Linked DNA regions of Homo sapiens: region 2 is linked to region 1. The links come from fine-mapping of genetic effects on gene expression. A gene starts in region 1. The other region holds a variant in brackets. All regions are shown on one strand. Distances are between the middles of the regions.

Region 1 (5,382 bases):
ATAGATGATGTACAACAGGAAATTTCATTCATAAATTTCATTAATTAAGAATATGTGATACTGAAATTGCAAATATCCAATCTGTTTCCTGCTAGTGAGTAATGTTGGGTAAATGAGTTTCTGGTTCTTTACTTATAGAGCAGGAGGAAAACAATACTTCCTAGACAATGAGCTATTAGTAGGGGCTCAACAAATGCCAGTTAAAGCTGAATTCAACTTAGGCAATACTGGCCACTGACAATCAGTATGTGTGTGTGTTTTGAGACAGAGTCTCACTCTGTCACCCAGGTTGTAGTGCAATGGTGTGATCTTGACTCACTGCAACCTCCGCCTCCCAAGTTCAAGCAATTCTCTTGCCTCCCAAGTAGCTGGGATTACAGGCACCTGTCATCACGCCCGGCTAATTTTTGTATTTTCAGTAGAGAAGGGGTTTCGCCATGTTGGCCAGGCTGGTCTCAAACTCCTGACCTCAGTGATCCACCCGCGTCGACCTCCCAACGTGTTGGGATTACAGACGTGAGTCACCGCGCCTGGCAGACAACCAATTTTAAAGCACTCTTTCTTTGAGCTCTTTTTCTTTAGTACCAGTACACACTGTGTAGATATTTTTGTTTTACTTACTAAACTGTAGGTTAGTAATCAATTTTAGTACCTACCAGACTGTAAGCTCCTTGAGGACAAGGAATTTGGACATTTCCCTTTTTTGAAGACCTAGCACAGGACCCTTATGAAAATAACCACCAAACAGTCTTATCACCAAGTTCTAGAACTAGAGTAGCATCTGTCCTATTAAAAACTACTGATGGCATAAATATAAACCTAAACTTACTCCATTAGAGCACTGACAGATTTGAAATCAACAATCAGTATTTCATACAATTTTAAAACTTTAATACTTTTTTATCTCCAATGCAATATAAAAATAGTACTCACTTTGGATAGGAAATCAACTAGAACTAGACTGTTGACATCCAGCAACAAAGCATAGCCCAACATAAGAAATACAGATTTGCAACACTTCGATATGTGCTTTGAACATTGATATGCCAAGTAGCAATAGAAATAATTATCTCTTTGGATGGAAAATGTTAATGACTAATCATTTCTTAAACTAGACTGGATACTTTTCCATATAGGGACTATGCTATTCCACGTTCTCCAACATGGATCCATCCATTTACTTCTTGCCTTCCAAGGTACCACCCTATCCCAATCCACCATCACTCCTTGCCTGGAGTATTTCAATAGCTTTTTTTTTTTTTTTTTTGAGACAGAGTCTCGCTCTGTCGCCCAGGCTGGAGTGCAGCGGAGCGATCTCGGCTCACTGCAAGCCCCGCCACCCGGGTTCACGCCAGCCTCCTGCCTCAGCCTCCCAAGTAGCTGGACTACAGGCGCCCGCCACCACGCCCAGCTAATTTTTTGTATTTTTAGTAGAGACAGGGTTTCACCGTGTTAGCCAGGATGGTCTCGATCTCCTGGCCTCGTGATCCGCCCGCCTCGGCCTCCCAAAGTGGTGGGATTACAGGAGTGAGCCACCGCCTCCGGCCTTCAATAGCTTAACAGGTCACCAAGCTTCCACACTATTCCCACACAGCCTCTCCCCTCTTGCCACCGGCTGTGACCTCAGACTGAAATGCTCTTCCCTGGCCCCTCCTTATCCTTCAAATCTTGGCTTAAAAGCCTTTTCTCAGTTTCATTGACCAGGCTATCTAACATTTACGATTCCCCCAGCATATCATCCATTTTATTCTTCTTTACGGACTCATTTCTGGCTCGTAGTAAATGTTCAATAACGGTTAAGTGAACTGAATCTCTAATTTCTGGTCGTTAATTTGTAGAGACCACTTTCCCGGATTTAAAAAGTGCAGGTGCTCTGGCAGCCTTAAGTCGGTGAAAACAAGAATATTCCGCAAAACAAAAATAACTTGTTTATTCATCAAAAACAGTTAACGTTACACTTCTATACCGTCAATTCGTGTGTGAACAGAGTTGTGTCTGATCCAAGACCTTACAGTTCAAGCACTGGATCCCAATAACCTGTAAACAACGTTTTGTTATTTGCAATGCAATCCTGGGCTAACTTTTCAAAAGTCGTTTTTCTCAATTTCCCGTTAGTTAAAGGAATAAAAAAATGCTGTCCAACGTGGTCAATGGACCAAACAAACAAGGACAACAAACAGAAGCGTGAGCCATTGCTAACACAACAGCGACCAAACAATCATGCACTGTATCAGGCGTGTAAAAATCTGGGGGGAAAGGCTTAGTCTTAAGGCCTAAGTCATCGGACACTGGTCCTCTCCCGGGGAATAAAACGGCCTCCTCCTCTGAGAGGGAAATGTCCTGAATTTTCCCTGCAGAGGGAAGGTCACCTGCAAGCCTACATTCGTGACAGCGTTCCCGAGGACCCCCTGATCCTCATCTTCTTTTCTGCTTCATCAGACCAGAGACCGTGGCTAAAAGCCCCCCATCTGCCGGCTCTCAGGGGCTTCCGAGGCGGCGGGGCGGGAGGCGGCGCCCAGTCAAGGACAACAGAAGACTACGTCGCGTGGGCCAAAGGAAACAGTCCCGTCAATAAATAAGCCTCTGGCCGACGCACCTCACCCTTCCCATCCATACAAGACCTCACCTTCTCCCCGGAGCCGCGGAGGCTGTTCTGCTAAACTGTCTGGACCACGACGACCCCCTAGGAGGCCGGGTCGCTTATTCAATATGGCGGCCTCGGCTAACTCTGTCAGCCGGGCCTGGAGAACGGAAAGCCCGGAGGGACTAGAATCCTTGCATTCGACAAGTTTGTCGGCAATTTCCGTCAGCCGACCAGAGGGCGGAGCTGAGGTCGGCCCAGCCCGGAGGCGGGAAGGACAACTTGGACCCGCAGTTCCGCCGGAAGTGGCCCCAGCCTCGAGGCCGGGCGTCTTCGGTCATCTCCGGCGCTTCTAGGGCTGGTTCCCGTCATCTTCGGGAGCCGTGGAGGTACGAACTTAAGACATGCCTATTTTATTAATTTACTTCCAAACGCAACGAAAGGTCCATGGACAATTTGTGGGCCATTTAATTCAGGGCCCCCAATTCGTACGTGGAGAAGTGGGAATGCAAAAGTACTTTGACCTTTAACCTTCGGTCCGGCGCGGTGGAGGGAAACGCCTCCGTCTCTATATAAGGAATTTTCCGGTCTCTTCGGGTCCTTTTTCCTCTCTTCAGCGTGGGGCGCCCACAATTTGCGCGCTCTCTTTCTGCTGCTCCCCAGCTCTCGGATACAGCCGACACCATGGGTTTCGGAGACCTGAAAAGCCCTGCCGGCCTCCAGGTGCTCAACGATTACCTGGCGGACAAGAGCTACATCGAGGGGTGAGCGGACGGGCTGAGTCGGGGTGGCGGGGAGGTTTCTCCGCCCGGGGCCGGGGCCACGTGGCGCAGCGTGTCGGCTGCCGCGGGAGGGAGGGAGGCCGGGCCCGGGGCCCTTTCGAGAGGGAGGGGAAAGCGCCCCGTTGCCGTCTCCCAAGGCCCTCGTGTGGGGCGAGCCCGGCCTCCGGGGAGCGGTTCACGAGCAAGGAAAGGTTAAAATGTGCTTTATTTACACTTAATTCAGCCAGGTGTTTCCGCATCGCTGCCCAGTTAATACATGTTAAGCTGTAGATAGAGCAACGCCAGACATTGCAGTATTTGAGGTCTACTTAGTGGCAGACATTTCTCAGGATAGCGCGGTGACCCAAACATATGGTTTGATTTGAAGGAGCTAATAAGAAAAGAAAAGCATTAAAGCAACCCTGCTGGGGTTAGTGCCCACTAATTAATGTGATGCATACGGTATTTATTATTTATTCGCTGGCGTTTGTTTTTCAAAGGTGTGTGTGAATGTTTCTGTGTCCTTGGCAGGTATGTGCCATCACAAGCAGATGTGGCAGTATTTGAAGCCGTGTCCAGCCCACCGCCTGCCGACTTGTGTCATGCCCTACGTTGGTATAATCACATCAAGTCTTACGAAAAGGAAAAGGCCAGGTAAAATCATCTTTGTATAGAGCTGAAGAATAAGACTGCTCTCGAAGTTTATCAGGATGTTCACATGACAAAACTGGACCCAGGCTACTTTAGTTTTGTTGGGATATTGTAAGCTAAATTTTTCTGTAACCTTAGAAGGCCAAGAGACTGAAGCCCTCCATTTTTTCACAGAACAGGTAGAACATGGACAGCAGCAATTCAACTTTTCCCCACACTGCCCTGCCAATGTGCCTCGACCTTGACCTGGGGGGCCCACCTCTGGGGTGAGAGGGTGGCTCATTCATTCAGTCCTTGGCCATTCTTCTGAAACTGCCAACAAGGGTGGAAGTTTGGGGAAGTGGACTCCAGTTCACTAAGAATGGAACTGAGCATACTTAATGAAATCTCAAACAGAAATGTTCATACTGAAAGAGTAAATCATAGTGAGTATTGAAAATAATGTCTCACATGGTACTAATGCTTGTCGGGTGAGGAGTTGAACATATGACAGTGTTTACCTGGGCGCATGTGAAAGGGTAAATTATGATTGCAAAAGGGATCTAGTGATAAGTAGTGATTAAAACAAGTTATTTTGTATTTTCTGGAAAAGGATGTTATACTAGCTCAATAGTGGTTGAATTTAAATGTTTTTCAAGCCTGCCAGGAGTGAAGAAAGCTTTGGGCAAATATGGTCCTGCCGATGTGGAAGACACTACAGGAAGTGGAGCTACAGATAGTAAAGATGATGATGACATTGACCTCTTTGGATCTGATGATGAGGAGGTATGGCGTCTTCTATAAAGAACATATCGGCCAGGCGCAGTGGCTCATGCCTGTAATCCCAGCATGTTGGGAGGCTGAGGCGGGTGGATCACGAGGTCAGGAGTTGAAGACCAGCCTGGCCAAGATGGTGAAACCCTGTCTGTACTAAAAATACAAAAAAATGTGGCAGGCATCTGTAATCCCAGCTACTCAGGCGGCTAAGGCAGAGAATTGCTTGAACCTAGGAAGCGGAGGTTGCAGTGAGCCAAGATCGTGCCACTGCATCCAGCCTGGGCGACAGAGCGAGACTCCGTCCCAAAAAAAAAAAAAAAGAATACATCGATCAGCAATTGTATCAATGTGGTTAAGCCAAATTGCCTGGATTTGAATCCTGGCTTTAATTTATATGCCTTTTTCAAATTCTGACTGGTTGCATGATGAATAAAATCAAATCACCATCTTTCGGCTGAGTTCGTGATGGATTTGCTTTTTTCTGATTAAGCCAGTCTTTTTTGTGATGACCCCACTAGCTTTAAGCAGAGGAACAACCAGCTTTCTGAAGTGGATTAATTTTTTTTCTTTACAGGAAAGTGAAGAAGCAAAGAGGCTAAGGGAAGAACGTCTTGCACAATATGAATCAAAGAA
Region 2 (5,382 bases), 62 kb before region 1:
CTGTGGGCGTAGATCACACTACTGCACTCCAGCCTGGGCAATAGAGGAGACTCTACACACACACACACACACACACACACACATATGTATATATGTATGTGTGTATATGTGTATGTGTATATGTGTGTGTGTCTACGTGTGTGTGTGTGTGTGTGTGTGTATATGCCACTTGTGGTGGCATGAGCCTGTAGTCCCAGCTATTTGGGAGGCTGAGGCAGGAGGATCGCTTGAGCTGAAAAGGTTGAAAAAAATTTTTTTAATAATAATAGATACATACATACGTATTCAAGAAGTGTCTATAAATCACTTACAGTGTGCTAGGCACAGGTGGTAAGGATATTGGGGAAACAGCTCCTGCCTGCGAGTGTCTTCAGTCTGGCAAGAGACAAAAGAATTATTGTTTTAGGGTTATTTATTTTTATATAGATCCTCTTGATATGTAAGCTTTTATAAATATAAGCTTTTGAAAATATAAGCTCCACGAAGCCTGGAGATTTTGTCTTTTTTTGTTTTGTTTTTGTCTAGTTTGTTCATTTGGCCTCTTGAACACTGCCTGGGATGAAATATACACCGTAAATATTTGTTGGATTAATGAATATTTGAGATTTTGGATTCTTTACTATTTGATAATTAAGGTATGGCTTTTAGATGGTTAAATGAGAAGGACTCTGAGGAATTGAGCATGGACTTTCTAACCATCTCACTACAAAAGTCCAAGATGATTAGCAAAATATCTGTGTAATTCTAGTTATTTCAGCCACCCTCAAGCATTATATTCCAATTGGCCATACTCTAGTTTAAAAACCTGGGAGTGGTATTAAGTATTCTTTTTCTTTTCTATTGACATATTTCTGTTGTGCATTTCTATTGCCAAAGATACTTAAAACGTGTGCATATCCTAGGTTATTTTAAGATGACTAGCCGTACAGGTCAAAAAATTTAAAAATGGAATATAAGAGAATCACCTGGAGTAAAAAGCAAACATAGAAGATGTAAAAATATATATGGTTGCCATTATAGCCTTTTGTGTGGAAACTCTAGCATATTTGAGCAAACATCTTTGAGTATTCCCTTTTCACATTTTGTAGGACATGATCAGATATACCATCTGCTTCTCTGGGTAACTTGGCAGCTGTTAATTGACTAACATTCCCTGAGTTCTGTTGTCACCATCAGTGGTTCTAGAACATAAGAACAAAAAAAGATTGTAAGAATAGCCTTCATAACCCAAGTTTCCTTTAAATCATAGAGAGAAAAAAAATAAGAACCTATATTGACCAACTGGGAAAAACTAAAGGAATATTTACATAATCATAAGTCATTTTAATTTTCTCTAAGGCTATTACTACAATATATCTAAATATTTTAAATGTATATATAAAGCAAGAGCAATTAAGTAATTTAATACCAACAGAATTTATATTTCAAATGGGGGGAAAATGGATCATCTCATTTTGTGGTAAGATATACAGATGCTTCCTGTTGCCCTGTCCAGAATGATGTTAACATTAACCTCAGAGGAGGCCGTTAAGCCAGCGTTGAGCTAGACAGTAACCATTATGTCTCTCTCTATTGAGGAGGAGGGGAAAAATGATGTTACCTAAATTTATGAGCTGCAAACTGAACACTTCATACAATGATGATCAATGATATGATAAGTTATCATTCAATTTCTACGGTTTGTGTCCTCTCTGAAATGAAGCTAAGAAAAAAAATTGTAGGGAAATAACAGACTGCCGTTTGCATTATTAGAAAGCTCACGTAACTGCACTATGCAGGCCATTTGTCTTTTTTTTTTCCTGTTAGAAGGGAGTTTTTATTTTCTCTGAATCAAACTATTAGAGTAATACATTACTGAGTTCATTTTTGCTTCTATCTCTTTATCTTGACTTGAGTTCAGAAAACTTGGAACATGTGCATTCTTTTAAGCTGTCTGAAAGGATTTTGTGTATTTATGGTTTTACATGCCGAGCTATTTTTCCTCAGAAATTCTGACATCAAATGTGTGAATTTTTTCTCACACCAACCAATTCTCCAACTTTCCGGACACCAACGGGGTATCCTACAATTCAATTCAATTCTAACATTAACGGCCCAGCATTAGCAGCAGACTCCACAGGTTTTAAAGAGTCCTCAATTCCAATGCCATTCGCAAGTATTGGGTCCCCAGGTTACCCACACACACTTCTTGGGTACAAAGTCAGGGAGTTCCCACAACTTTCTCCCCTTCAGCTTGATAATTTGCTACAATGACTCACAGAACTCAGGAGCACTCTTATATTAATATTTACTGGCTCTTTATAAAAGATATAACTTGGGAACAGCCAAACAGAAGAGATGCAGAGAGCAAGATATTGGCAGGGGTGTTGGAAGCCCCGCGCCCTCTCTGGGCACACCACCCTCCTAGCAATTTGATGTGTTCACCAACCCAGAAGCTCACTGAACCTGTCATTAGGGGTTTTTATGGAGGTTTTGTCAAATCAGGATGACCAATTATTAACTCAGTCTTCAGCTCTTCACACTTCCCCACATATTGAGGGGATGGGCTGAAAGTTCCAGGCTTCTCATCAAGGTCTAGTCTTTCTGGTGACCAGGCCCCATCCTGAAGCTATCTAGGGCCCCAGCAAGAAACCTCAGTAGAACAAAAGATGCTTCTATCAACCAGGAAATTCCAAGAGATTAAGGAGCTCTGTGTCGGAAACTGGGGACAGAGACCAAATATTAGAACAAACGACGCTCCTATCATCCCTATCACTCAAGAAATGGCAGTTTTAAGAGCTCTGTGTCAAAAATCAGGGACAAAGTCCAAATAGATAGATAGATAGATACACATATATATACATATCTCTCTCTCTATATATATACACATATATATCTATTTCTTACTATGTCACACATGCTAACTCCTTATTCTGAAATAAAAGCAAAAAGCAAACACCAAACCAATAACAAAAAGCCTCCACAATGTACAGGTGTTATGGGGTCACATCATGATAAACCTATTGCGAATTGGGAATATTCTTAAATAAAAAATGCATTTAATGTACCTAATCCACCAAACA[T/A]CATAGCTTAGCCTAGCCTACCTTAAATGAGCTTGGAACACTTACAATAGCCTACAACTGGGCAGAATCATTAAACACAAAGTCATTTTACAATGAAGTGTTGGCTGGACGCAGAGGCTCATGCCTATAATCCCATCACTTGGATACTGAGGCAGGAAGATTGGGCCGGGCACGGTGGCTCACGCCTGTAAGCCCAACACTTTTGGGAGACTGAGGCAGGTGGATCACCTGAGGTCAGAAGTTCGACACCAGCCTGGCCAACATGGTGAAACCACGTCTCTACTAAAAATACAAAAATTAGCTGGGCGTGGTGGCAGGCACCTGTAATCTCCTAGCTACTCCGGAGGCTGAACCAGGAGACTTGCTTGAACCCAGGAGGCGGAGGTGGCAGTTAGCCAATATCGTGCCATTGCACTCTAGCCTGGGCGGCAGATCAAGACTGTGTCTCAAAAGAAAAAAAAAAAAAAAAACTGGACGACTTAGTACAGATGGTCCCTGATTTACCATGGTTTGACTTAGGATTTTTCAGCTTTACCATGGTAACCATACAACTATTCTGTCTTTCAGTACAGAACTCAATGAATCGGCCGGGTGCAAGTGCCCGTCTGTAATCCCTGCACTTTGGGAGGCCGAGGCGGACGGATCACGGGGTCAGGAGATCGAGACCATCCTGGCTAACACGGTGAAACCTTGTCTCTACTAAAAGTACAAAAAATTAGCCGCGCGAGGTGGCAGGCGCCTGTAGTCCTAGCTACTCGGGAGGCTGAGGCAGGAGAATGCCGTGAACCTGGGGAGCGGAGCCTGCAGTGAGCCGAGATCGGGCCACTGCACTCCAGCCTGGGAGACAGAGCGAGACTCCGTCTCAAAAAGAAAAAAGAACTCTTTTTTTTTTGACAGAGTCGTGCTCTGTTGTCCAGGCTGGAGTGCAGATCTTGGCTCACTGCAGTCCCGACCTCCCAGGCTCAAGTGATCCTCCCACTTCAGCCTCCTAAGCGGTGAGTAGCTGGGACCACAGGTGCCCCACTATGCATGGCTAATTTTTTTGTTTTTCTTTTTGTAGAGACAGGGTCTCAATACGTTGCCCAGGCTGGTCTCGAGCTCCTGGGCTCAAGCAATCCTGCCAATTAGCTGGGATTATAGACATGTGCCACCATGCCCAGCATATATTTACTTTCATTAATCTATACTACTGCATCAAAATTATTATAATGTTGTGGCATGTTAAGTCTTTTTTTTTTCTAAGACAGAGTTTCACTCTTGTTGCCCAGGCTGGAGCGCAATGGCGCAATCTTGGCTCACCGCAACTTCCGCCTCCTGTGTTCAAGGGATTCTCCTGCCTCAGCCTCCGGAGTAGCTAGGATTACAGGCACGTGCCACCACGCCCGGCTAATTTTGTATTTTTAGTAGAGACGGGGTTTCTTCATGTTGGTCAGGTTGTTCCTGACCTCAAGTGATCCGCCCGCCTCGGCTTCCCAAAGTGCTGGGATTACAGGCGTGAGCCACCTCGCGGACTGCATGTTAAGTCTTTTGAAGCAGGCCGGGCGCGGTGGCTCACGCCTTTAATCCTAGCACTTTGGGAGGCCAAGGTGGCTGGGTTGCCTGAGCTCAGGAGTTCAAGACCAGCCTGGGCAACACGGTGAAATCCCGTCTCTACTAAAATACAAAAAAGTAGCTGGGCGTGGTAGTGTGCGCCTGTAATCCCAGCTACTCGGGAGGCTGAGACAGGAGAAACTCTTGAATCCAGGAGGCGGAGGTTGCAGTGAGCCGAGATTACCCCACTGCACTCCAGCCTGGGCGACAGAGCAAGACTCCGTCAAAAAAAAAAAAAAGGCTCTTGAAGCACACTAACTCTTCCAAAATTAAGCTCCCTTAAAGGAAAATAGAATTATTAAAATGAAAACAGTAAGCAACATAACTGTTACTATTTCAGCTAAGAATCTTAAAGCACATTACAGACACTTTTCATCTTAACAATTGGAAAAAACAAGTACTAGCAAGTGAATTGCTTAAGATTACATAGACTAGCCCAATTCTAGAGAGAAATAATTCAAGTGTATCTTATTGTCATCTTGTTGTTAAGTACAGACATATTCAGATTTCACCAGTTTCCCACTAATGTTCTTTTTCTTTTTTCTTTTCTTTTTTTGAGACAGGTTCTCACTCTGTTGCCAAGCTGGAGTGCAGTGGCACAATCACAGCTCACTGCAGCCTTGAACTCCTAGACACAAGTGATCCTCCTACCTCAGCCTCTCAAGTAATTGGGACTGCTGACTTGAACCACCATGCCTGGCTATTTTTTATTTTTTAGTAGAGATGGAGT

What was found. PIP is the estimated chance that this variant, and not a neighbour inherited with it, causes the effect.
Region 2: its variant is fine-mapped to the expression of EEF1B2 in lung (TOPMed, PIP 0.94).

What each region holds. Positions count from the first base shown.
Region 1 is chr2:206,156,715-206,162,096 of GRCh38, forward strand. EEF1B2 (eukaryotic translation elongation factor 1 beta 2) reads left to right here and starts at 3,181. Exons shown (of 6, transcript NM_001959.4): 1 at 3,181-3,345; 2 at 3,874-3,996; 3 at 4,632-4,758; 4 at 5,324-5,382. The coding sequence starts at 3,266. It overlaps NDUFS1 (NADH:ubiquinone oxidoreductase core subunit S1), which reads right to left and starts at 2,730. Exons shown (of 19, transcript NM_005006.7): 1 at 2,627-2,730. SNORD51 (small nucleolar RNA, C/D box 51) reads left to right here and starts at 5,167; the gene lies at 5,167-5,236. RefSeq lists enhancers at 2,408-2,817, 2,928-3,187 and a silencer at 3,448-3,517.
Region 2 is chr2:206,094,611-206,099,992 of GRCh38, forward strand. No RefSeq gene overlaps it. Among named protein-coding and RNA genes, the nearest start is that of INO80D, 11 kb to the left of the region's middle. The variant T/A (reference allele first, on the strand shown) is at 3,063.